7 linked regions of the Homo sapiens genome follow. The protein of the gene in region 1 interacts with the protein of each later gene in a biochemical or structural test. Each region holds a gene or a part of one and is shown in the gene's direction. Other genes may lie near its edges.

Evidence for each region.
Region 2: the proteins of PTP4A2 (region 1) and TLK1 form a complex in vitro, tested with the Homo sapiens proteins (one large-scale study listed by BioGRID).
Region 3: the proteins of PTP4A2 (region 1) and DHX15 form a complex in vitro, tested with the Homo sapiens proteins (one large-scale study listed by BioGRID).
Region 4: the proteins of PTP4A2 (region 1) and EWSR1 form a complex in vitro, tested with the Homo sapiens proteins (one large-scale study listed by BioGRID).
Region 5: the proteins of PTP4A2 (region 1) and WIPF2 form a complex in vitro, tested with the Homo sapiens proteins (one large-scale study listed by BioGRID).
Region 6: the proteins of PTP4A2 (region 1) and AKAP8L form a complex in vitro, tested with the Homo sapiens proteins (one large-scale study listed by BioGRID).
Region 7: the proteins of PTP4A2 (region 1) and CARS1 form a complex in vitro, tested with the Homo sapiens proteins (one large-scale study listed by BioGRID).

The regions. Positions count from the first base shown.
Region 1 is NC_000001.11:31,907,369-31,910,868, reverse strand, and holds part of PTP4A2 (protein tyrosine phosphatase type IVA 2), read left to right. Parts: intron 1-756; coding exon 757-831; intron 832-1,908; coding exon 1,909-2,017; 3' UTR 2,018-3,500.
Region 2 is NC_000002.12:171,045,894-171,049,393, reverse strand, and holds part of TLK1 (serine/threonine-protein kinase tousled-like 1), read left to right. Parts: intron 1-3,031; coding exon 3,032-3,220; intron 3,221-3,500. UniProt on the Homo sapiens protein: Rapidly and transiently inhibited by phosphorylation following the generation of DNA double-stranded breaks during S-phase. This is cell cycle checkpoint and ATM-pathway dependent and appears to regulate processes involved in chromatin assembly.
Region 3 is NC_000004.12:24,529,765-24,532,554, reverse strand, and holds part of DHX15 (ATP-dependent RNA helicase DHX15), read left to right. Parts: intron 1-2,784; coding exon 2,785-2,790.
Region 4 is NC_000022.11:29,274,768-29,278,267, forward strand, and holds part of EWSR1 (RNA-binding protein EWS), read left to right. Parts: intron 1-3,262; coding exon 3,263-3,449; intron 3,450-3,500. UniProt on the Homo sapiens protein: Binds to ssRNA containing the consensus sequence 5'-AGGUAA-3'. Might normally function as a transcriptional repressor. EWS-fusion-proteins (EFPS) may play a role in the tumorigenic process.
Region 5 is NC_000017.11:40,271,304-40,274,803, forward strand, and holds part of WIPF2 (WAS/WASL-interacting protein family member 2), read left to right. Parts: intron 1-2,486; coding exon 2,487-2,696; intron 2,697-3,500. UniProt on the Homo sapiens protein: Plays an active role in the formation of cell surface protrusions downstream of activated PDGFB receptors. Plays an important role in actin-microspike formation through cooperation with WASL.
Region 6 is NC_000019.10:15,405,489-15,408,988, reverse strand, and holds part of AKAP8L (A-kinase anchor protein 8-like), read left to right. Parts: intron 1-3,500. UniProt on the Homo sapiens protein: Could play a role in constitutive transport element (CTE)-mediated gene expression by association with DHX9. Increases CTE-dependent nuclear unspliced mRNA export.
Region 7 is NC_000011.10:3,050,924-3,054,423, reverse strand, and holds part of CARS1 (cysteine--tRNA ligase, cytoplasmic), read left to right. Parts: intron 1-3,500. UniProt on the Homo sapiens protein: Catalyzes the ATP-dependent ligation of cysteine to tRNA(Cys).

The DNA.
Region 1 (3,500 bases):
TCCTAGCTCATCAAAAGGATTTTCTTGAAAACGTCTAGCACCTTTTTAGCATTTGATAAGGAAATATTAAAATCAATTGGTAATGAAAATTCTGACACATTGGAGATAAGTAATATGTTTGGTCATTTATTTTACTGTGATAATGGCTAAAGGCCAATGAAGGATTTTTGATCATATCTAGTGATGAGAGAATTTAATATATAATGTGATGTTTTAAAGAGTAAAGATTTCTTAAGGTTTAGAATTTAGTGCTTTACTAAAAGTAGATAATCAGGCTGGGCGCTATGGTTCACGCCTGTAATCCCAGCACTTTGGGAGGCGGAGGCAGGCAGATTGCTTGAGCCTAGGAGTTCAAGAGCAGACTGGGTAACACGGAGAAACCCCGTCTCTACTAACTATTAAAAATCAAAAATTAGCTGGGCATGGTGGCGGGCACCTATAGTCCGAGCTATTTGAGGAACTGAGGCAGGAGGATCACCTGAGCTTTGGGAGGTTGAGGCTGCGGTGAGCCGTGATTGTGCCACTGCACTCTGGCCTGGGTGATAGAGCGAGACCCTGTCCCCTGCCCCGCCAAAAAAAAAAATCATAGAATTAATGATGATGAGATATATTTACTGTATTAGGCAGATACCAGCTACTTTAGTATACAGGAAAAAGAAAGCTCATGCGTTGCATTGGTAATATGCAGTTACAGGTTTTTAAAAATCCTTTCACTCCAAGACTTATGGATACTTACATACAGGTTTCTTTCTGCAGGGCACCTGTGCTGGTTGCACTTGCTTTGATTGAATGTGGAATGAAGTACGAAGATGCAGTTCAGTTTATAAGACAGTGAGTATGAAGTTTTTGTGTTCAGAAACACAGAAAGCAAGATCATGCATGAGGAAGGAATTATGGAAGGGATATTCATTTATAGTATGGGATAATTTGCTTTTTTTGGCTTGAAGTATTATTTGAAGATGTAAAAAATTTAGAGCAAGTGATAGAGACTCAGTACAGCTGGTTTCCAGATTCAAAAGTTTTCTAATTTGGACATTATAGACTGTGTCCAGTATATTGTTTTGAGTATCTAGGAATCTCAAAAATGCCCCTTTTAATAGATTCCAAATACCTTCCAAATATAATTCTCTGTTAGGAGGAGGCAAGAAGAATGTGTAGAGGAGCAGTTAATCACCTGAGACTCTTTTTTTTTTTTTTGAGATGGAGTCTCGCTCTGTTGCTCAAGCTGGAGTGCAGTGGCTCAATCTCGGCTCACTGCAACCTCTGCCTCCTGGGTTCAAGCGATTCTACTGCCTCAGCCTCTCAAGTAGCTGGGACTACAGGCACGCACCACCACGCCCAGCTAATTTTTGTATTTTTAGTAGACGGGGTTTCACCATGTTGGCCAGGATGATCTCAATCTCCTGATCTCGTGATCCGCCCACCTCGGCCTCCCAAAGTGCTGGGATTACAGGCGTGAGCCACCACGCCTGGCCTCACCTGGGACTCTTAAGTGATCTATTCAGGGACAAAATCAGGATGGTAGTGCACAGACAGGATCTTGACATTGATCTGGAATAACGAATCATGCTATTTTGTTATCCAGAATTCTTTGACAATTTTTGTCTTGCCCTTTCCCTTTCAACCCTTCCTTTAAAAAAAGAAAACGAAAGTAGAAACTATTCTGATCTTTATTAAATGGTTAATAGACTATAATGACAGTCAGCAAGAAAAATTTTTCTATTCCTTCTAGGAGGGCTTAGAAAGTTCATGTTGCAACTTAGCTCTTTAAGAATTGTTGTAGTATGGGAAATATGCTGGTTTTCAGCTGTGTGGAATTAGAAAGGCTTTAGGATGTAAATAATGCATTTCAGTGAATCAGACAGCTCTTTTTTTACATGATAAAGTTTGCCATTCTTGTATTTTCAGAAAAAGAAGGGGAGCGTTCAATTCCAAACAGCTGCTTTATTTGGAGAAATACCGACCTAAGATGCGATTACGCTTCAGAGATACCAATGGGCATTGCTGTGTTCAGTAGAAGGAAATGTAAACGAAGGCTGACTTGATTGTGCCATTTAGAGGGAACTCTTGGTACCTGGAAATGTGAATCTGGAATATTACCTGTGTCATCAAAGTAGTGATGGATTCAGTACTCCTCAACCACTCTCCTAATGATTGGAACAAAAGCAAACAAAAAAGAAATCTCTCTATAAAATGAATAAAATGTTTAAGAAAAGAGAAAGAGAAAAGGAATTAATTCAGTGAAGGATGATTTTGCTCCTAGTTTTGGAGTTTGAATTTCTGCCAGGATTGAATTATTTTGAAATCTCCTGTCTTTTTAAACTTTTTCAAAATAGGTCTCTAAGGAAAACCAGCAGAACATTAGCCTGTGCAAAACCATCTGTTTGGGGAGCACACTCTTCCATTATGCTTGGCACATAGATCTCCCTGTGGTGGGATTTTTTTTTTCCCTTTTTTTGTGGGGGAGGGTTGGTGGTATATTTTTCCCCTCTTTTTTCCTTCCTCTCCTACATCTCCCTTTTCCCCCGATCCAAGTTGTAGATGGAATAGAAGCCCTTGTTGCTGTAGATGTGCGTGCAGTCTGGCAGCCTTAAGCCCACCTGGGCACTTTTAGATAAAAAAAAAAAAAAAACAAAAAACAACACCAAAAAAACAGCAGTGATATATATATATATATATATATATATATATATATATATATATATATATATATATATATATATATATAATATAATATATATATATATATATATATTTTCCAGGTGGTTTTTAGTCTTTACTGATGAAAGGGTGTTCATGTTAGTTTCTTCAAAACCCTATCTAATACTAGGCAAAGTAGCCAAGAGCCTTTTGTTTTGTTTTTATTTTGATAAATTAGTGGAGAAATGGCATTTTAAGAGGAGTCTCTTCTCAACTTACCTGAGAGTCGAATTCTTCTCTTCCCTAACCAATGAAGCTAAGTGGTTATCCCAGAAACTTGTCTTCTAAAAGGGAGGACTCCAGGCCATCAATAAAGATGTCCAGGCAGTGAGCGTACTTTTTACACCCTGTAGAATTGTGGGCTGTAGCGTTACTCTGATTTTCTGTCTAGTATCAGAGAATGCTGGTAGCTTAAAATTTTTATTTTAGGACTTGTACTCTGAATTTTCAGGAACCGTCAAAGGAGCAGCAGCAAATTCACATATTTTCGACTTGAGAAATGCTTGTGGTATGTGTTTTCCAAACTGCCCCCTATATGTAAAGTTCAGTTTAACCACTGATTGCCTTGTTATTACTAGGTTTTTTGAGATTAAAAAAAAAAAATCCCTGGTTTAAAACCAACAATGATGCCTAGTGAGTATGTGTCCACAGGCCATAACAGGGTAGAAGAGAGACATCGTGCAACCCAATGAGTAGTGAAGGGACTGTGTTGCTTGTGAAGCGGTGTAGTAGCATTTTTGCAGATTCTTGGCTGGGTTTAGTGTACTGATCTAGAAAAGCTGTTTTTCTGCTCCTTTGTG
Region 2 (3,500 bases), on another chromosome or scaffold:
AAACTTCTCTTTTGCCTCAGATATAATAACTGATTTATCAGTTAAACTGAACATGTGGCTTTAGCGTTTCTGAGGTAAACTCTATTTATTATTTATTTATTTTAATTTCAACTTTTATTTTAGTTTCAGGGAATATATATGCAGGTTGTTACAGGGGTATATTGCTTGATACTGAGGTTCGGGGTACAATTGAACCCACCACTCAGGTAGTGAGCATAGTACCCAGTAGTTTTTCAATCCTTGCCCCTGTCTCTGCCTCCTTCATCTTTGTAGCCCCCAGTTTCTATCATTCTCATCTTTATGTCCATGTGTCTCCAATGTTTAGCTCCCACTTATACATGAGAACATGCGGTGTTTGGTTTTCTGTTACTTTTCAGATCAAACTTTTAAACAGAGGAATTATAGTTACCATATTTTCTTGAGTTCAGATGGTGGTAGAAAAGGATTTATTGGCTGTTTATGTGTTAAGGAGTGCTAAATATGCTACTCCGTTTTTGGTGGAAAATTTTTTTAAACCTGAAAATGGGGAGTAATGCCAGCATGAACATCAGCTTTTCCAGAGTATCCAGTTATTTGAAATAGAGGCAGAACTTACTTTCACATGGTATCACACCAACATTGCTGTTCAAACACTGCCTCCTAGGACTTGCCACAGAATGGCCTTCTCTCTCAGCAGATTTATTCAACTTTTCTTCAACATATCTGTGCTAGTTATACCACAGTGAAACAAAGGATAATGTCCTTGTGATATTAGAGAGTTTGGGTTTCAATTCTGCAGATAATGGGACTTGTTAAAGGTTTACATATAGTGTACGTGATCGGAATGATATCTACAGTGATAGTTGTAGAATAATAACTGATGGTAATGTGAAAATATTATTAGAGGATGAATGTTATTGGTAGTTAAGATGGAGGGGTATCCAGATGAAAGGTGATTAAAGCATGAACTAACATATCAACAGTAAAGTGGAAAGCAGGAGAAGATAATTTTTTAGTGTTTATGAGCAAGAGGCTCTGCTACTAAACCCAGACCGGCAATTGTCCTGCAATGAATAAAAGAGACAGTTATATAATTAATATGAATGTTCTGAAATATAAATTCTACTAGTAGTTCCAATTTCTCCTCTTAACTGTCAGAAAAGAGGCCACAGGTGCAGTGGCTCACGCCTGTAATCCCAGCACTTTGGGAGGCCGAGTTGGGAGGATCACCTGAGGTTGAGAGTTTGATACCAACCTGGCCAGCAGGGTGAAACCCTGTCTCTACTGAAAATACAAAAATTAGCCAGGCATGGTGGTGGGCGCCTGTAATCCCAGCTACTCGGGAGGCTGAGGCACGAGAATTGCTTGAACCTGGGAGGTGGAGGCTGCAGTGAGCCGAGATCATGCCACTGCACTCCAGCCTGGGCGACAGAGTGAGAGTCTGTCTCAAAAAATAATGTCAAAAAAGAAAATAATTACTTGTATGTCCTGACTTTCACTAATAAGCATTTATTGAGGACCTACTGTGTGTATATCAAGCCGTTTATAATTGGTGATATAATCCAGAGTGGTTAGAAGATGAGAAGAGAAATAAATAAAAGTAATAATATTAATCTCTAAACTGTATAGTCATCCCTGAGTAATCAGCTATTAATATCTATTCCAGTAATTCTTTACTTTCCATTAATATTTTAATCATTAGGATTATTATTGCTTATTTGCATTTATACCATCTTGATTGTGCCCTAAAATAGCCTTAAGATTTACTTATTAAAAATTGAAATTTATTCCTGCTTCTAAATGAAAACCGGATTAAAGTCTTGTTCTCACTTTGCTATTCTTGAGATTTTTCTCTACCCTTTCAATCTTCTACCTAGATTCTTCTTGATTTTTTTCACTCCTATCATATTCTGCTACTTTATCACTAAAACCATAGGGAAGGGGATGTGTGTAAGGTCAATTCTGCATTAGCAAAGTAGGAGCCCTTTAGTTGATGTCAGTGGTTGGGGAGAGGAGGGCATGAAATATTTGACTTGCTCTAAGTATTGTAACCATGTAGGATTTGAAAATTTTTTATTGGCATAGTGAGGTGACCTGAAAGAGAACATGGTTACTGTTAGAATAAGCTTAAGGTGTTGTATGATAAGTTGGTTTTAAAAAGCTTCACTGTTAACTACTTTATGCTCTGCTCAAACTGCTAAAATATCTAATCTACATTTTAATAATAGACATGGTATCTATTCGTTTTTAGAATTAGGGAGCTATTTGCAAAATTGTTTCAGTTTCTTGAATGGGAAGCATTGATTTTATTTTTGTTACTTTCCCATTTTTCAGAGCCATGCTAATTTTTCTTGCTATTTTCTTGTCTTTTTCCCCTTAAATTATCAAAAAAATTTTTCTCATAAATTTCTTATATTAAGGTTAATTTGTCTCATTTCAAAACACCAACTTCCCATTACCAATTTTTTTTAACAAAAGTAGATTTAGAAAATAACTCTCTTCACATTAAATTCATATTTGCCTTTTGTAAATTTGTTTGCAAATACTGTGGTGAGATGCATGTGTAACATATACCCCATACTTTAATAGTTTGGGGTATTGTTTTATCTCATTTCATTCAAGAAACATTTACTGAGCAAAGGTAAGTGATGATCACTACACTAGGTACTAGGGATACAACAGTATAAATACTGTATAAATAGACACCATCTGTGTTCTTAGGGAGTGATGTCATCTAACCGGACACTTTCTGATAAAGTATCTATAGGAATAATATTTATTAGAAAGAGTGAGGTGGGGAGATAGAAGATCCCATGAAATTATATATGGCAACACATCTTTCCCTAATCTAGGGGTTTAGAGAATACCTCACTTAAAAAAATTCTTTCAAATGAGACCTGAAGGATAAGTACAAATTGGTTCACAAGAGTGGAACCAAAAGGTTACGAATGTATATTTTATGGTTTTTCATGTTTTTTATGCATTTTTTCCAAGTTTAGCCTTGAAAAGTAATGGAAGGTTAATATGGTTTTATTTGTTTATTTTTACACAGGCAACAAGAATGGGTGAATCAGCAAAGGGAAGATATTGAAAGGCAAAGGAAACTTCTAGCCAAACGCAAACCTCCCACAGCTAATAATTCTCAGGCACCCTCTACCAATTCTGAACCAAAACAAAGGAAAAACAAAGCAGTCAATGGAGCAGAGAATGATCCCTTTGTTAGACCAAATTTACCACAACTGTAAGCCTCCATTTAAAATTTTTCTTTTTTAAAATTGTTGCCAGTGAGCGTGAATGTTACTAATGGATGTTATTTATAATTAATACTTAGATAGCAAAAATGATTAAGACCAGGAAGGAAGGCAGTATTGAAAATTTAGCTCTAAATTAATAGCCCCAAATATCTGAATTCTACCGTTTTAAGCAGAGATTTAACAATTCTCTTTTAAAACAGAGACCTAGGTAGCTAAGAGGTTACCAGAATTCACCCTTCTGTGTCTGAATCAGTTAGGAATCAATTA
Region 3 (2,790 bases), on another chromosome or scaffold:
TAGGCACCTGTTTCTTCAGGAATGTGAATATTGATCAGTGCATTAAAGTTTCTCTGAATCTAGGGCTTAATTGGAAATACATTGTCATAACAGAGTACTAAAAGGAAGCAATTGAGCGGATCCAAAAGTACATACAGTTGGCTTTAGTCTTTATCTAAAAACTAAGCACCTCCAAATTCAAATATTCAAATACGTGGATTTCATTTACAGTCCTCTACAGAGTGATCATTGGTAATTATGACCAAGACCCTTGCGTACTGCAAAAGCCAAAAACGTCTGTTGAGTAGCAATAAAGATGAAACATAATTTAAAAGGTTTTATTTAGTTTAAGTATGCTGTGTTAACGGCTATAAGAACAGAAGTAAAACTTGTCAAGTAAATACTGTGAACAGTTATTTTAAGGTGTTTATAAAATAAGAGAAACTTTGAGAAAAATGCAAGAAAATTTTGTGGTGATAAAATTGAAAACAAATCACCTGATTTGGGATAAGTCTCTTCTATCTCTTTTCTGTTTGTTCATTCTCTCTTTGGCTGTGTCTTTTAAGCACGATGTGGCTTACCCTTAAGGCCAGATGGGCTCAGTAGCTAGAATATGAGCCTGAGGACACTCAGTTTCAGAATCAAAAATCAAAGGAGATTGGTGAGATGTCTGTATTTGAATCTAAGTAACACAGTGTTTATTGTGGCATCTTATTATATAATAGGCTTATTAGAGTTTGGTGAATGATAGGTATGAGCATTCTTTCTTGAAACTCTTAACTATATTCTTAATATTTGATATGTTGTACTGGCTTCTCTTTGACATGTTCTGTTCTTTTTTAGGGGGAGGGGATGGGGTGAGGGAGGCAATGTCTCACTCCCAGGCTGGAGTGCAGTGGTGCAATCACGGCTCACTGCAGCTTTTACCTCCCTGGGCTCTGGTGATCCTCCCACCTCAGACTCCTGAGTTCCTGGGACTACAGGCACGCACCACTATGCCTAGCTAATTTTTGCCTTTTTGTGTGTGTAGAGAGAGGGCCTCGCCACGTTGCCCAGGCTGATCTTGAACTTCTGGCTTCAAATGATCCTCCTACCTCGACCTCCCAAAGTGCTGAGATTACAGACGTGAGCCACCAGGCCTGGGTTGACATGTTCTTAAATTTGCTTTTTATATTTCAGAAAAAAACTGGCCGGGCGCTGTGGCTCACGCCTGTAATCCCAGCACTTTGGGAGGCCGAGGCGGGTGGATCACGAGGTCAAGAGATCGAGACCATCCTGGCTAACATGGTGAAACCCCGTCTCTACTAAAAATACAAAAAATTAGCCGGGCGCGGTGGCGGGTGCCTGTAGTCCCAGCTACTCGGGAGGCTGAGGCAGGAGAACGGCGTAAACCTGGGAGGCAGAGCTTGCAGTGAGCCGAGATAGCGCCACTGCACTCCAGCCTGGGCGACAGAGCGAGACTCCGTCTCAAAAAAAAAAAAAAAATTGATGAAACTATATTCAAGCATTATACTTCTTAATTATGTAGATTAAAATTTGTTACAAACAGCTAGGCACCACAGAGTGTGCTTGTAGTCCTAGCTACTAGAGAAGTTGAGTGGAGAGCAAGGAGCGTTGAAGCCAGCCCAGGCAACATAGGAAAACCCTATCTCTTTTTAAAAACAAACAAAAAATTTATTAGAAACAGCATGCATTATAGTACCTGACACCTAATAGGTGTTTAGTAAATATTTCGAATGAAATTGAGTTTCTTTTCTATTATTCATGCTCATTCTTTAAGCACAGAATATTAGAATTGGAAAGGGAGAACTGTCCATTTTGATGAGTATCACCAGTCAAGGTGTTACCAAAAAAAGAAATGAGAGGGAAGCACGTGCAAGCTCTTTTTTTTTTCCCATTTTTATTTTCCTGTCTTTGTAGGTTACCTTTTTCTTTTCCTCTTTGCCCTCTTTAGTTTTCTACCTTATTTTTTATTCTATTTCTTTATTTTCTTTTTTGAAATGGAGCCTCTCGGTCTGTCGCCCAGGCTGGAGTGCAGTGACTTGATCTCAGCTCACTGCAACCTCCGCCTCCTGGGTTCAGGCAATTCTCCTGCCTCAGCCTCCTGAGTAGCTGGGATACAGACACCCGCCACCACGCTTGTCTAATTTTTGTACTTTTAGTAGAGATGAGGTTTCACCGTGTTGGCCAGGCTGGTCTCGAACTCCTGACCTCAGGTGATCTGCCTGTCTCAGCCTCCCAAAGTGCTGGGATTACTGCACCTGGCTTTAGTTTTCTACCTTAGACATGAATGTTCTGGTAATTGTCTGCTCATAGTTGGCGCCCAGTGCTGAAGAGCCTGCTCTAGATGGTCTCAGGCAGGAAAGATCAGATAGTAAATGTTGGGCTCTGTGGACCCATGAAGTCCTTGTCAAAACTACCTAACACTGCCTGCTCTTGGAGCATAATAGGTATAGACAAATGGGCATGCCTGTGTTCTAATAAAACTTTCCTTATGGATACTGAAGTTTGAATTTTACATGCTACTCATGCTTCACGGAATGTTTTTTGTATGATATTTTTTCTTTCTAATTAAAGATAAATAAACCATTTTGGATTCACAGACCTTACAAATAGAGGCTATGAGTTGGATTTGGCCCACAGGCAGCAGTTTGCTTATCTCTGCTTTTATCAGACAGTGATAAATAAGTATAGCCATAGAATGAAAAGTAAAAGGGAGGCCTGCCTCTTCCTAATTATGTAGGTAGCTTTACAACTAGCAAGTCAGAAGCATTGTATTAATAATATACTGGGTTTTGGTTTCAGGTGGCA
Region 4 (3,500 bases), on another chromosome or scaffold:
AACTATTCTAAGAATTAGAAGAAATTGTATTCCGATACTGAGGTTGGGTGGGATACATGAAAAACCTATGATAATTTTTTTGTGTTCAGTGCTGTGTAATGTTTCAGGCTGTCTCCCCCTGCCCTTTTATTATTGCTGTTATAAAAGACTCTAATAAAGTCTTAAAGATATCAGAGCTCTTATTTTCAAACTGTCTTTAGTTCTCCAAATTATATATAGTCCAGTTAAGGGGAAAAACCTGTCTGTAATTTATCTCATTGAGTACCAGTGTCCTGATTTTGATGGGAAGTAATTCCTAACCTCTTCTAGGGTGTTTCTCAAATAGGATGGGAAATGTTTATCTAAACTTTCTAGTGGTGTTAATTGCAGCTGTGGGAAGAGCTGGAACTAAGGTTATGCAGTTTGGATTTTTTAGCATAGAATTTTGAAATTGTGAGATAAACTTCATGTATTAAAGCCATTACATTTTTTAAAACAAGCATGATGTGAAAGTTAATGTGGCCTAGATCTAGCCTTCCGAATCCTTAGATCATTTTACAGGAATGAGACGGAGTGATTTATAGGCAAATTAATGGTTCTCTAGAGCCATGTATCACATTGTCGTTGGTTGAGAAATCCCCATCATGACTGTGGGCCTAAAAAGTACAGGTCATTCTAGTTTAGAGACTAGTAGCTTTGATGAGCTGGAGATTGCACTTAGTAATAATAATGTTTGTATAAAATTCACAGTTTATAGAGTGGCCTTCTTGTCTCCCTTAATCCTCCCAAGAACTTTTGGGGTATAAAAACACCAAAATTAAGCCTGATGAGCAAACTGTGTGAACAAAACTTAGCAGGAGCCTAATTGGTAGTGCGTGGGTTCAAGCACACATGCTGCATTTTTCCTTACCTCATACTGCCTTTACACATGAAAGTTATCGGATAGTCATTGGAGGGAATACATAGAAATACACTGTTCTCTTCTAGGATTTTTAAAAATTAAACTTCAGAAGAAAGGGGTTATATAAACCTCAATTCAATGGAATTCTTAAAAACTTCTTAATTTTTACGTTGAACAAAAGTTTTGGTTTGTGTAATATTTCTTACCACCTTTTTCCTTCAAGTTGTCAGCACATAGTAGGTGTGTTTTCTTTTTTTGCCACTGGTCTTTTGTTTTTTTGTTTTTTTGTTTTTTTTTTGGTCATTAAATCATTTTGCTCTGTTGATTTTTGTTCATTTTGCTTGGCTGCTTTTGTGGGTACTACAGATTAATTAAAAGGTTATTTATTAACCCAGTGTCTATTGCTGTAATCTTTAGCATGACAAGGCCCTAACTGTTGCTGCATAGTTTTATGACATGAGTTATTGCCCTGATCACTTTTAGTTTTTTGTTTTTTTAATTGCCCTCCTTGTAAATCTTATAGACGTGTCATGTAGTGGGGTGTAATCGGTATATGAACGGTAGGGTAGATGGTATTAGATTCTAATTTAAATAAATGAATGCCTTATGTGGTTGACCTTAGGACTCTGCAAAAACTTAAGCAGTTCAGATGAACAACATGCCAACTCAAAAACTTTTATTGCTTGGGGCTTCCTGTTTTCTGGAACTATGTATACTTTCATACACATTTTAACTCAGCAGTTTTGACAAGGACATTACTATCTCTGTGTATAATTTCAGAATTTCCTTTTAATATTTGAGGTAGAGAAGAAAGAGTATTATTATATTCTGTGCTACAAATGGTGATTGTACAAAAGGAAGCTGATACTTGTTTCTGGCCAGTACATGAGGACACTTTAAGGCCCTAAATCTTAACTAAAATGGGCAGTCTTGATTCAGGATTTATTTTAAATATGGAAGCTTTTTCTTTAGTGAGATGTAGACTTTTTTTTTGGATATAAATGCCAGCACCTAGACCAAAGTTTTGTTTTGTTTTGTTTTTTTAAGATAGGGTCTCTGTTGCCTAGGCTGGATCTTACTGCAGCCTTGACCTCCCAGCCTCAAGCAGTCCACCCACCTCAGCCTCCCAAGTAGCTGGGACTGAAGGCTCACGCCACCATGCCCAGCTAAGTTTGTTTATTTTTTGTAGAGGCGAGGTCTCACTATATTGCCCAGGGTGGTCTCTAACTCCTAAACTCAAGCAGTCCTCCCACCTCAGCCTCCCAAAGTGTAAACCAAACTTTTTATTGCATGGCTTAATTGTACCCATTGACCATGAGGAAGAAGAGTCCAGCACCAGGAATGGTTGTAACACCTCCTACAGGAAAGGTACTCTAGTTAGGAGCTGCAGACTTTCGTGGTTTTGGTCATGCTCCACGCCGAAGTCCCGAAGGGAAAGGCATGGATCCTGCCTGGTCTGGCAGAGGCAGGAGCTAGGGATAGAATGCATCTTGCTTTGCAGCATACCTGTGAAACCAGGTTTTTTCTGACACCTGGTTAGTGAAATACTGAAGGGGAGGAGAGACTCTAGGGTTTACCTCCAATATTGCTGAGCAGGAAAAAGGCCTTTTGCTTGTGGTAGGTAAGTAAGAGGAATGGAGCTGAGTAACTTGATAACGAGGCAGGAATCTGCTTTATGATGTGAAAACATTACCTTTTAAATGTTTGTTTGGAGCAATATCGAAGTTTAATTTTAAATAATTTACAAAAAAAGGATAAACTGTGTTAAGCAACTATAATTTATAGCTTATTTTTATTAATCATGTGCTCAAGTAATTAAGCTTGTGCTTCACATGATGTTAGTGCTTGGGACCAAAAGAAAGTGATTAAATTAATTACTACCCAAATTACAGGTTTTAGTGCTAGAACTAGTACCTGGATCATTTTCTAATTATTTTAAAATGCTATGTCATTTGCCTTTTACCTTTTCTTCTGGGATGTTTTATTCCTGCTTGAGGGTATTTTGGGGTAAGTTTGTTTACAAACTTGTTAAGACGACCTGCTAGCAAAATCAGTACAGACTTGGCAAAAACAGACTTGTCTCCTATTCACAGCATTCAAGAGGGGGCAGAAGGAACCCTGTTTTCTGTAGCATGACATGCCATTTCTGTTAGGTGTGGTTTTAGAGCAAATGAGACAGTTACTTTACCAAAAACTAGGTACATTCAGAGAACTTAGGCTTTAAATACCAGTTTGTTGCTACTCTTGCGGAAGGGGGAATATTTAAAGGGATTCAATATCCTGATGGTTTAAAGTAAGTGGTTTACAAATTGTTCTGATAATGAGTGTCTAGGCAGATCTCTGAGGGGACCTGAAATCTGATGCAGCTCTCCTTTGTTCTAGGTTATACTACTCCAACTGCCCCCCAGGCATACAGCCAGCCTGTCCAGGGGTATGGCACTGGTGCTTATGATACCACCACTGCTACAGTCACCACCACCCAGGCCTCCTATGCAGCTCAGTCTGCATATGGCACTCAGCCTGCTTATCCAGCCTATGGGCAGCAGCCAGCAGCCACTGCACCTACAAGGTAAGGCCATGGTGTCCTTAATGCGTCAGTCTTATGTTGGAGGGAAAGAAA
Region 5 (3,500 bases), on another chromosome or scaffold:
TTTGTCTGTTAAGCTGAGTAGTCTCTTCACATACTATTTAGGTCACAACTATTTATTGGGCCACGTGCTGTGGCACATGCCTATAATCCCAGCCCTTTGCTGAGGCGGGAGCATTGCTTGAGCCCAGGAGTTTGAAGCTGCACTGAGCTATGATTCCACCACTGCGCTTTAACCTGGGTGACAGAGTGAGACCCTGTCTCTTAAAAAAAAAAAAAAATTGAACATGGCCTAGATACCAAAAGATGCACTTCCAAGCCACTGGATTGTAAATCTGGTTGGGAAGATACTATGCAGAATACTGGGAGTTACGAAAAGCAGTGTGGGAGAGTAGAAAGAGCAGACATGTGCCTTGCCTATTTTTATTTGATCTGTGACCTTAAACAAATAACCTGAGTCCCAGTTTTCTCATTTGTGAAATGGGGATAATATTACATACTTCGCATGTGTGGCTATAAGACTTTTTAAAGATTTAATACACCGAAAATGCCTGGAACATAATAGATACCCAATAAATGGTAGCTGCTATTATTGTTAGTTAATACAGAGCATAGGAGTAAGACAAACACGTTAGAATCTATTATATTCCAGTCATATTGCCATTTCTTGACACATGCTTTTGACGTTACCTTCTACTTGGTGGCAAATTTTCATCTTTTAAGAGTGAATTTGATTTTTGGAATCACCAAAAAGCAGATTCAGACATAGGTATGAACATTTTCTTTTTTTTTTTTTTGAGGCAGAGTTTTGTTCTTGTTGCCCAGGCTGGAGTGCAATGGCACGATCTTGGATCACCGCAACCTCCGCCTCTTGGGTTCAAGCAATTCTCCTGCCTCAGCCTTCCGAGTAGCTGGGATTACAGGCATGCACCACCACATCTGGCTAATTTTTGTATTTTAATAGAGACTGGGTTTCTCCATGTTGATCAGGCTGGTCTCGAACTCCCGACCTCAGGTGATCCTCCCGCCTCGGCCTCCCAAAGTGCTGGGATTACAGGCGTGAGCCACCGTGCCTGGCATAGGTATGAATATTTTCATTGGTGATGGTGGTGGGGCGACCTCAGAAATGAAATGTGACCATCATATAATAGTGTTTACAGCTCTGACTGATAAACTTGCTTTGGAGGCAATTCCAAAAGAGGTGTTTGCAGTGTTTGAGCAATGAGACTGTTACTGGACATATGTAACTTCCCACAATGAATCTGCTGTATATATTTTGAAAATCGCTCATTGATATTAGAGTAAGTGACATAGCCTGTATATGCTGTGGGAGAGCAGAGGTGGAGGGACTCAGAAGAAAATGGATTGCTTTGGGAAAGCCTTGAGAAGATGGGACTTGGATTGAACCTTGAAGGGTAGGGAGGATTTGGTAGTAAGGGAAGGGGGGATATCAGAATATTGTGAGGGGAGTCACAAGAGCAAAGCATATAATTTGGTTTATTCAGCAAACATTGATTGAGCACCTGCTGTGTGCTGTACATTTGGCTGAACTTGGGAACCCAGAAGGAGGAACTGCTCTGACATCAAGGGGTACACAGTATACTGGGGAAAGAGCACACAGAATAAATAATTATAATAGTCTATTCAAGTGGTAGGTATGCACAAGCTGCAGTGGAAGTGCAGAGGAGGGCTCCTAACCTAGCCTAGCAATAAGAAGGGAAGAGGAGAAGCCAAGCTCAAGCTGATTGGTGTGGTAGGTTACTATGTAAGCAAAGGCTTTGAGACTTTATTTTTTTACTTATTTATGTATTTGAGATGGAGTCTCTCTCTGTTGCCCAGGCTGGAGTGCAGTGGCACAATCTGGGCTCACTGCAACCTCCACCTCCCAGGTTCAAGTGATTCTTGTGCCTCAGCCTCCTGAGGAGCTGGGACTACAGGCACACGCCACCACACCGGGCTAATTTTTTGTATTTTTAGTAGAGATGGAGTTTCATCATGTTGCCCAGGCTGGTCTCCAACTGCTGAGCTCAGGCAATCCTCCCGCCTCGGCCTCCCAAAGTGCTAGGATTATAGACGTGAGCCATCACACCCAGCCACAGTTTGAGACTTTATGATTTAGGCAGTGCAAAGCCTTTGAAAAAACTGGATCAAGTTTTTAGGGAGGTTGGTGAGTTGGTGTTATGCAAAATGAATTTGGAGGGGTAAGAGACAAAGCAAGGAGAACATTCGGAAGGCTTTTGCAGTAGAGAACAGGCTAAATATAAGGAAGACCTGAATTAGAATTGTGGAGGAAGGCATGGAAAAGCAGGAAAAAAATCAAGAACAGATAGGGTTCTGACTGACTGGTAGGAAATGTAAAAAGGCCATACATTTATTCTGAATGTTGGTATCTGGAAGAATGGTGATGCTGTTCAAGTAATAAGGACAAAGGGGAACCAGGCACTGTGAGCCTCTGTGGGGTGTGTTACTCTTTTAGCTCATGTGTTTCAAGTCATTCTACCCCTTGCCGTCTCCACATCCAAACCTAACTACTTTGGATTTTAATTGCAGCTCCTCCACCCCCACCACCTGTGATCCGAAATGGTGCCAGGGATGCTCCCCCTCCCCCACCACCATACCGAATGCATGGGTCAGAACCCCCGAGCCGAGGAAAGCCCCCACCTCCACCCTCAAGGACGCCAGCTGGGCCACCCCCTCCTCCTCCACCGCCCCTGAGGAATGGCCACAGAGATTCTATCACCACTGTCCGGTCTTTCTTGGGTGAGTAGCTAGCTATCTGTAGTCTCATGGTTCCTGCGGTGACTTCACCCACTCCAGTGCCATGGCTGCTAGATGGCCACCATAGAGTGGGAATGGCCACATGGGATCCTTTGTTCACAATAGTTCTCCTGCTGACTTCATCCTCAGAGGTATGGGCTGTGTTCATTGACTTCCTTATCTTGATATGAATTCTAAGCATGGATGCTTTGGAGTAGATTGAAGTAAAATCAGCAAGTGTTGTGCTAACTCTAAATCCACTCCAAAGATCACTTTTTGTAGCTAGCTTTTAGGTCAGAGACTCTGTATCTTCTTTAGGATTATTCAGACAGGACTTATGTATTCTCCTAGGAAGGAGTGTTCCTTTCTAGCTCTTCAAAAACAAAACACTTGATTGTTCTTGGAATTATTATTTTTTAATTATTTTTTATAGAGACTGGGTCTCTGTTGCCCAGGCCGCTGTCAAACTCCTGGTCTCAAGCAGTCCTCCAACCTTGGCCTCCCAAAGTGCTGGGATTACACATGTGAGCCATCACATCCAGCCTTTCCTTGGAATTCTTGAAAAAAAAAAAAAAAAAAAAAAAAAAAAAAAGAAAAGTCCCATGGCACATTGCCTGGAAAGAAAAAAGAAGAAAGAATGACAAAAAATATTAAAGAAAAAAGGATTGGGCGTGGTGGCTCATGCCTGTAATCCCAGCACTTTGGGAGGCCAAGGTGGGAGGATTGCTTTTAGCCCAGGAACTCAAGACCAGCCTGGGCAACATGGTGGAACTTCATCTCTCTAAAAAATACAAAAATTAGCTGGGT
Region 6 (3,500 bases), on another chromosome or scaffold:
ATAGGTTAAGGTTTCTTATTCTTCTATGGCATATAAATATATAATTGTTCCAGCACCATTTGTTTAAAAAACAAAAACAAAAACAAAACCATTTTTTCTTTCTTTTTTTTTTTTTTTGAGACAGAGTCTCACTCTGTCCCCCAGGCTGGAGTGCAGTGGCGCGATCTCAGCTCACTGCAAGCTCCGCCTCCTGGGTTCATGCCATTCTCCCGCTTCAGCCTCCCGAGCAGTTGCCCGCCACCACGCCTGGCTAATCTTTTTGTATTTTCAGTAGAGACGGGGTTTCACCGTATTTGCCAGGATGTTCTCGAGCTCCTGACCTCGTGATCCTCCCGCCTCGGCCTCCCAAAGTGTTGGGATTACAGGCGTGAGCCACCGCGCCCGGCCTCTTTCTTTCTTTCTTTCTTTCTTTTTTTTTTTTTTTTGAGATGGAGTTTCGCTCTTGTTGCCCAGGCTGGAGTGCAATGGCGCGATCTCAGCTCACCACAACCTCCACCTCCCAGATTCAAGCTATTCTTGTGCCTTGGCCTCCCAAATAGCTGGTATTACAGGCATGTGCCACCACGCCTGGCTAATTTTTGTATTATTAGTAGAGACGGTTTCACCACATTGGCCAGGCTGGTCTTGAATTCCCCATCTCAGGTGATCCACCCGCCTTGGCCTCCCAAAGTGCTAGGATTACAGGTGTGAGCCACTGTGCCAGGCCTATATTTTCTCTATTGAATTGCCTTCGTACCTTTACTGAAAATCAGTTGACCATATACTGTGGGTCTATTTCTGGACTCTTGGACTCTCATTCTGTTCCATTGGTCTGTACATCTAAATTTCGTTCAGCAGCACGGTCTTTTTGTATTTTTAGTAGAGACTGGTTTCACCATGTTGGCCAGGCTGGTCTCAAACTCCCGACCTCACATGATCCACCTGCCTCGGCCTCCCAAAGTGTTGGAATTACAGGCATTAGCCACTGCGCCTCGCCCAGCAATGCAGTCTTGATTACTGGTTAATAGTAATCTTGAAATATGAGTCCTCCAGGTTTGTTCTTTTTTCCAAAATTGTTAGTTTCTTTGCTTTTGCATATAAATTTTAGAATCAGTTTATGAAGTTTTTTAAAAAATTCATGCTGAGATTTTGAGTGAGAGAGCCTTGGATCTATAGATCTATCAAATCTGTAGAATCTATAGATTAGTTTGAGAAAATTGACATCTTAACAATATCAAGTCTTCTGATTCATGAGTGCAGTATGTCACTTCACTGATGTAGTGTTTTGTAGTTTTCAACACAGATCCTACACATACTTTGTTAGATTTACGCCAAGTTTTTCATGCTTTTAGTGCTATAGGAAATGGTACTTTTAAAAACTTTCCATTCATTGCTGATATATAGAAATTTGATTGCTATTTGATTTGTAGGTTTACCTTGTAATATTTGAAATTTGACTTACAGATTGACCTTGTAATAAACCTTGCTAAGCTCACTTATTCTAGTAGCTCTTTTGTAGATTTGTTTGAGATTTTTTTACATACACAATTGTGAAAGAATAGAGATGGATTTATTTTTCCTTCTGGCTTGAATTGCAAGAACAATATAACATTTAAATAACATTTTGAAAAACAGTCAACCAAGATCCTACCATATTAATGTTTAATTTTTATCAGCTTACTGATTTTGTGTAGTTTAATAATTTATAGGTGGATAGAATTGTGGGTACTGCTCTTATTTTATTTTATTTTTTTAAGATATGATCTCACTCTGTCCCCCAGGCTGGAGCACAGTGGCACAATTTCAGCTCACTGCAACCTCCACCTCCTGGGCACAGATAGCCCTCCCACCTCAGCCTCCTGCATAATTGGGACTACAGGCATGCCCTACCATGCCCAGCTATTTTTTGTATTTTTTCTAGAGATGGGGTTTTGCTATGTTGCCCAGGCTGGTCTCAAACTCCTGGGCTCAAGCGATCTGCCTGCCCCACTTCCCAAAAGGATTACAGGTGTGAGCCACTGCGCCTGGCTGGTCCTGCTTTATTTTATGTTAGAAGCATTTCCTTGTGCCACATAAGGCATAGTAAATTCTTTTTATATGCTTACATGATATGTCACCGAGTAGGTAGGTGTAATCTGATTAACTATTACGTTAAAGTTGAGTGTTAAATTGTTTTCTATTTTTGGTCCATAAATATCACATACTGTGACCATGTCCTTTTTTCTTTTAAAAATTATGTCCTTGGGGCCAGGTGCAGTGGCTCATGCCTATAATCTCAGCACTCTGAGAGGCTGAGATGGGAGGCTTGAGCCCCCAGGAGTTTGAGACCAGCCTGGGCAACATAGTAAAACCCTATCTCTACAAAAATAGAAAAAATTAGCTGGGCATGGTGGCACATGCCTGTTGTCCCAGCCACTCCGGAGGCTGAGGCAGAAGAGTCACTTGAACCCAAGAAGTCGAGGATGCAGTGAGCTGTGATCACACCATTACACTCCAGCCTGGAGGACAGAGCAAGACTCTATCTCAAAAATATATATGTACATATATCTTATTTTTACATATATATGTATATATTTAATAATAATAAATATATAAATTTTAAGGATCTCTCTCTCTCTCTCTCTCTCTCTCTCTCTCTCTCTCTCTCCTTAAAATTTCTTTTGTCAACCATGATCTCATCCCTTCTGGGGATGGAAATGAGTTGGGGTGTTCTTTCAGAAAGGGCAGGTCTTGGGGAGTCCCTAAACGCCAGTCTAGATGAAGGCTTCCTCCTGAAGGGACCCAGCTGGGATGTCCATCAAGGAGTCTGGGTTGCTCCAGGCATAGCAAGTGGCATGTAGTGAGTGTTTGCCTGGAGGGACTCCTGAGAGTTGCCCATCGTGGGAGGCCCTGCTTGTCCTTAAAACGTAAAGTGGTGTTCACGGAGTTGATGCTGCTTCCTTTCGTTGTGCCTCCTCACTCTGTTGTGGCAGATCCTCAGCAGGTGAAGCTTGCAGTGACCACATTGTAGCCTCCCAAGCAGAGCCCTGATGGATCTGCTTTTGCCTCCATATCCTATTTTCTTTTTCTTTTCTTTCTTTTTTTTTTTGAGACAGAGTCTCGCTCGGTCGCCTAGCCTGTAGTGCAGTGGTGCAATCTTGGCTCGCTGCAACCTCCACCTCCCAGGTTCAAGTGATTCTCCTGCCTCAGCCTCCCAAGCATCTGAGACCATAGACGCGCACCACCACACCTGGCTAATTTTTGTATTTTTAGTAGAGATGAGGTTTCACCATATTGGCCAGGCTGGTCTCGAACTCCTGACCTCGTAATCCACCCACCTTGGCCTCCCAAAGTTCTGGGATTACAGGCATGAGCCACCACGCCCAACTCCTATTTTCTTTAGAATAGCTAGTGCCCACTGTCCCTGGTACAAACAGTCACTTGGCCAGGTGTACAGTAGCTGCCTGGGCTACCTGTGTGTTGTTCTATTTTTTTTTTTTTGAAATGGAGTTTCACCGTGTCGCCCAGGCTGGAGTGCAGTG
Region 7 (3,500 bases), on another chromosome or scaffold:
GAGCCTTAGGCAGTACCCTTGGGGTGGAGATTAAGCCATTTCCAGTGTGGGTGCTCTGGGTGGCAATATTGCTGTCTGATCACCCCACAGGCTCATTGTGAGGGATGTTGGATGCCCCTAATAATGAATAACCTCCCTCCCAGTAAGGAGGAAGATGGAGATGCTGTTCTTGGGGGTGAGAGAGGATGCCTGGGGGCCACCTTTGTGAACGAGTTGCAGCTGGACCTCCGGGGCTGGTGATCAGGACGGGGAGTGGGAGGGGAAGCCCTCACCTGTGGGAGGAGGCGCTGGTCTCTGGGAGTGGGCAGTGTTGGCTCCTAGTTGGTGAGAGCAGGGGTGCATGCCCCTCTCTCCTCCCCACGATTCATGTCTGGGGGCTTTTTCCGGTCCCCTTTCTGAACACTTCTTGGGCAGGGAGTGGATCACTGGGAAGGACCCAAGAGGAGCAGCTGTAGAGGGTGGGACCAGGGGAACATTTGCAGAAAGGGAGTAACCTGCAGGGTGAGATGTTGCCTGGACACCCACAAGATGAGGACCCTGGTGGGACCTTTGAAGTAGCAGGGTCAGAGGGCAAAGGGTCAGGGTGAGTGAGGGGTGCAGACCCCCACCAAACCGGGGCACTTATTAGGAGCTCAGACCTGCTGTAAAGGGGTCTGCATTTTAGCAAGCTTTCCACCCATGGGGAAGCTGGTTTAAACCTCACTTGCTGGGCCCACCCCAGAGATTCTGATTTGGCAGGTCTCTGGTGAGCCCAAGAATGTGACTTCTCTGGATCCCCCAGGTTCTGCTGCTGAAGGCACACCAGGGCCATGCCTGGAGTGGACCTGGGAGAGCCTCAAGGGAACGCAGGAAGAGAAACAGGGCAGCCGGGAGAGGTTTAAATGCTTACAGGAGGCCAGGCATGGTGGCTCACGTCTGTAATCCCAGCACTTTGGGAGGCCGAGGTGGGTGGATCACCTGAGGTCAGGAGTTCTAGACCAGCCTGGCCAATATGTAGAAACCCCGTCTCTACTAAAAATACAAAAATTAGCTGGGCATGGTGGCGGGCACCTGTAATCCCAGCTACTCGGGAGGCTGAGGCAGGAGAATCGCTTGAACCCGGGAGGCAGAGTTTGCAGTGAGCCGAGATCATGCCACTGCACTCCAGCCTGGGTGACGAGCGAGACTCCGTCTCAAAAAATAAAATAAAATAAAATAAAATAAAAATAAATAAAAAATAAATGCTGATAGGAAAGAGCCAGAGAGAGGGAGAGGTCGCACTGCCACAGTTGTTTGACGTGTCAGGGTTGTTGTTCATTTGGTGTGGCTTTGTTTTGGTATCTGTGCTGAGCAATTGCTTGGTACTTGCATGTGATTTCAATAAATGTTCTGTAGAGACTCCACCTTTGTAGCCGGTGACAACCACCATCCACCTTTGGGACATTCCCATGTCCCTCAATGTGTTGATGAACTGAACTGCAAGGTCATCCGGTGGTGGACATTCCTTCTCATGGGGGCAGAGCAGGAGTTTCGGCACGGAGCGTGCAGGCTCTACGATGAGGGCCAGTGTCGAGGAACAGGTCCCTGGGAGGTTTTCAGTCTGCTCAGAAGTGTTCTCATCTGATCTCAGCATCAGACTGATCCACAGCCTGGCTCAAACCCATGACCACTTGAAAGCTGACCTATTTTTATTTGTTTCCTCGAGACACACTTAAATGCAGCTACCACGATTACCCAAATGACTGTCTGCGTCCATCTCATGGAAGCCTGTCATTCTCCTGTGCTTCCCTGGGCACCAGCACCTTTCTGCTCTGAGAAGATCCTTCCCAAGCATGGTCTTGGTTCCCTTTTGATGAGCCGTCTAGCCTGCTCTAGACGGTACATTTAAGAATTATGTGATCCAAGATCAAGGCAGATTTGGTAATAAACTTTTAAAATAATAAAATTAATTAAATAAAAATGGGTGTGTGAGCCCTAGGAAAACTCCAGGAAATTCTCTGTGTGTAGCATGCGGCTATTACAATAACATTAATAATACCAGAGCGATTATGATAATAATGATGGCAAATGGGGCCCCTGGCTCTGTGCCAGGCAGCTTTTAAACATTTTACAAGTGTCATTTGACTTAATGGCCTGCAGCTTTACAGGGCTGATGTTATGAGCGTGTTTTACCGTGAGGAAATGCCGCCGTGTGTGTGAGTGTAGGTACTCAGCCCTGGAGGGCGTCGGGGCCGCCCCTCAGGTCTCCAGAGAGCGGATACACAGCGGCTTCAGTTCCCAGACTGCTTCCTCAGCGCTCAAAAGCCACTGCAGCCGCCGTTAGGACATTTGATGTTTTTCTCATTTTAAAAATAGCAGATGCTTACTGCAGAAAATGTGAGCAATGAAGAAAAAGAGGGAATTAAAATCACCTGTCACCCCCTCTCATCAACCATCGTCACTGTCAGTGTTCGGGCTGTTGCTGGTGGTCTCTCCATCAGAATCCATTCTGAGTGTGAGAGGCACGTGACTGTCAGCTCGCTGTCTCAGCTGGAAGCCGATGCTGTGTCACTGTTTCTCAGGGTGCTGCTGTTGTCTCTTCTTCCCTCTTGCTGTCGTGGAGTCCAACCCAGGCATGAGCAGTTGCAGAAGACCAAGGCTCAGGGAGGGGACAGGGGAGAGGAATGTGGAGGGTCAGCATTGGGGAACAGCTTTCGAACTGTGGCCTGATCTGTGAGGGGACAAGGCTCACCTTCCAGCTCTGTCCATCCCTCTGGCAAGTTCTCTAATCTTTAGTGAACTTCATTTTCTTTATCATGAAATGGGACCCCTGCTGGCAGCTGCAGAGCTGTTGGAGGGAAATATCCAGCTAAACTAGAAGTCTCCTGGCTGGAAGTTGCTCTGCAAAAGAGTTTGTAGGAGTCTGATATTTATTTAGAGTTAGTTTTCCAGGACCTCACTTTGGGGTGCTTGGAGCTGCCTCTGTGGGTCTGCCTCCGCCTCCGTCCTCCCTGATCTCATCTCCAGCTGGGAGGAGAGCGCATCTCCATGTAAGCAGCCTCCTTCTTCTCAGAGGGAAGCCCCGGCAGTGTCAGTGCTGACACTGGGCCTGTAACTGTGGGGATGGGGCAGGTGAGAGGCCCTCAAGAGCTCCCGGCACCCCCCAGGCGCCTTCAGTGGGGCCAGAGTCCACCCCTGTCTTTCTCTTTCCTTGGACTGTTGGAAGAGCTGAAGTGAAAAGTGACTTGTTCTTATGTCTCTGGTATCTTTGGGCAGCAGGGCTCCTGCTAAGCAAGCCCCTGGGGGCTCAAAGCAGCAGAGGCTGTGGCCGGTTCCCAGCACTGGTCCTTGTGCAGGTGTCTTTCTGAGAAGGGTGCATGAGGCCCAGTGCCACAGGGGAACGCCAGCCCACCACTGGTGGCATGCACTCTGTGGTGCCATTCTGCTGTCCACTCATCTGTGCCCTAGGCAACTTTAGCTGATATCTGGAATGTCACACGCTCAGTTGTAGATGCTGAAGATCGAGCAGTGAATAAGGTAGA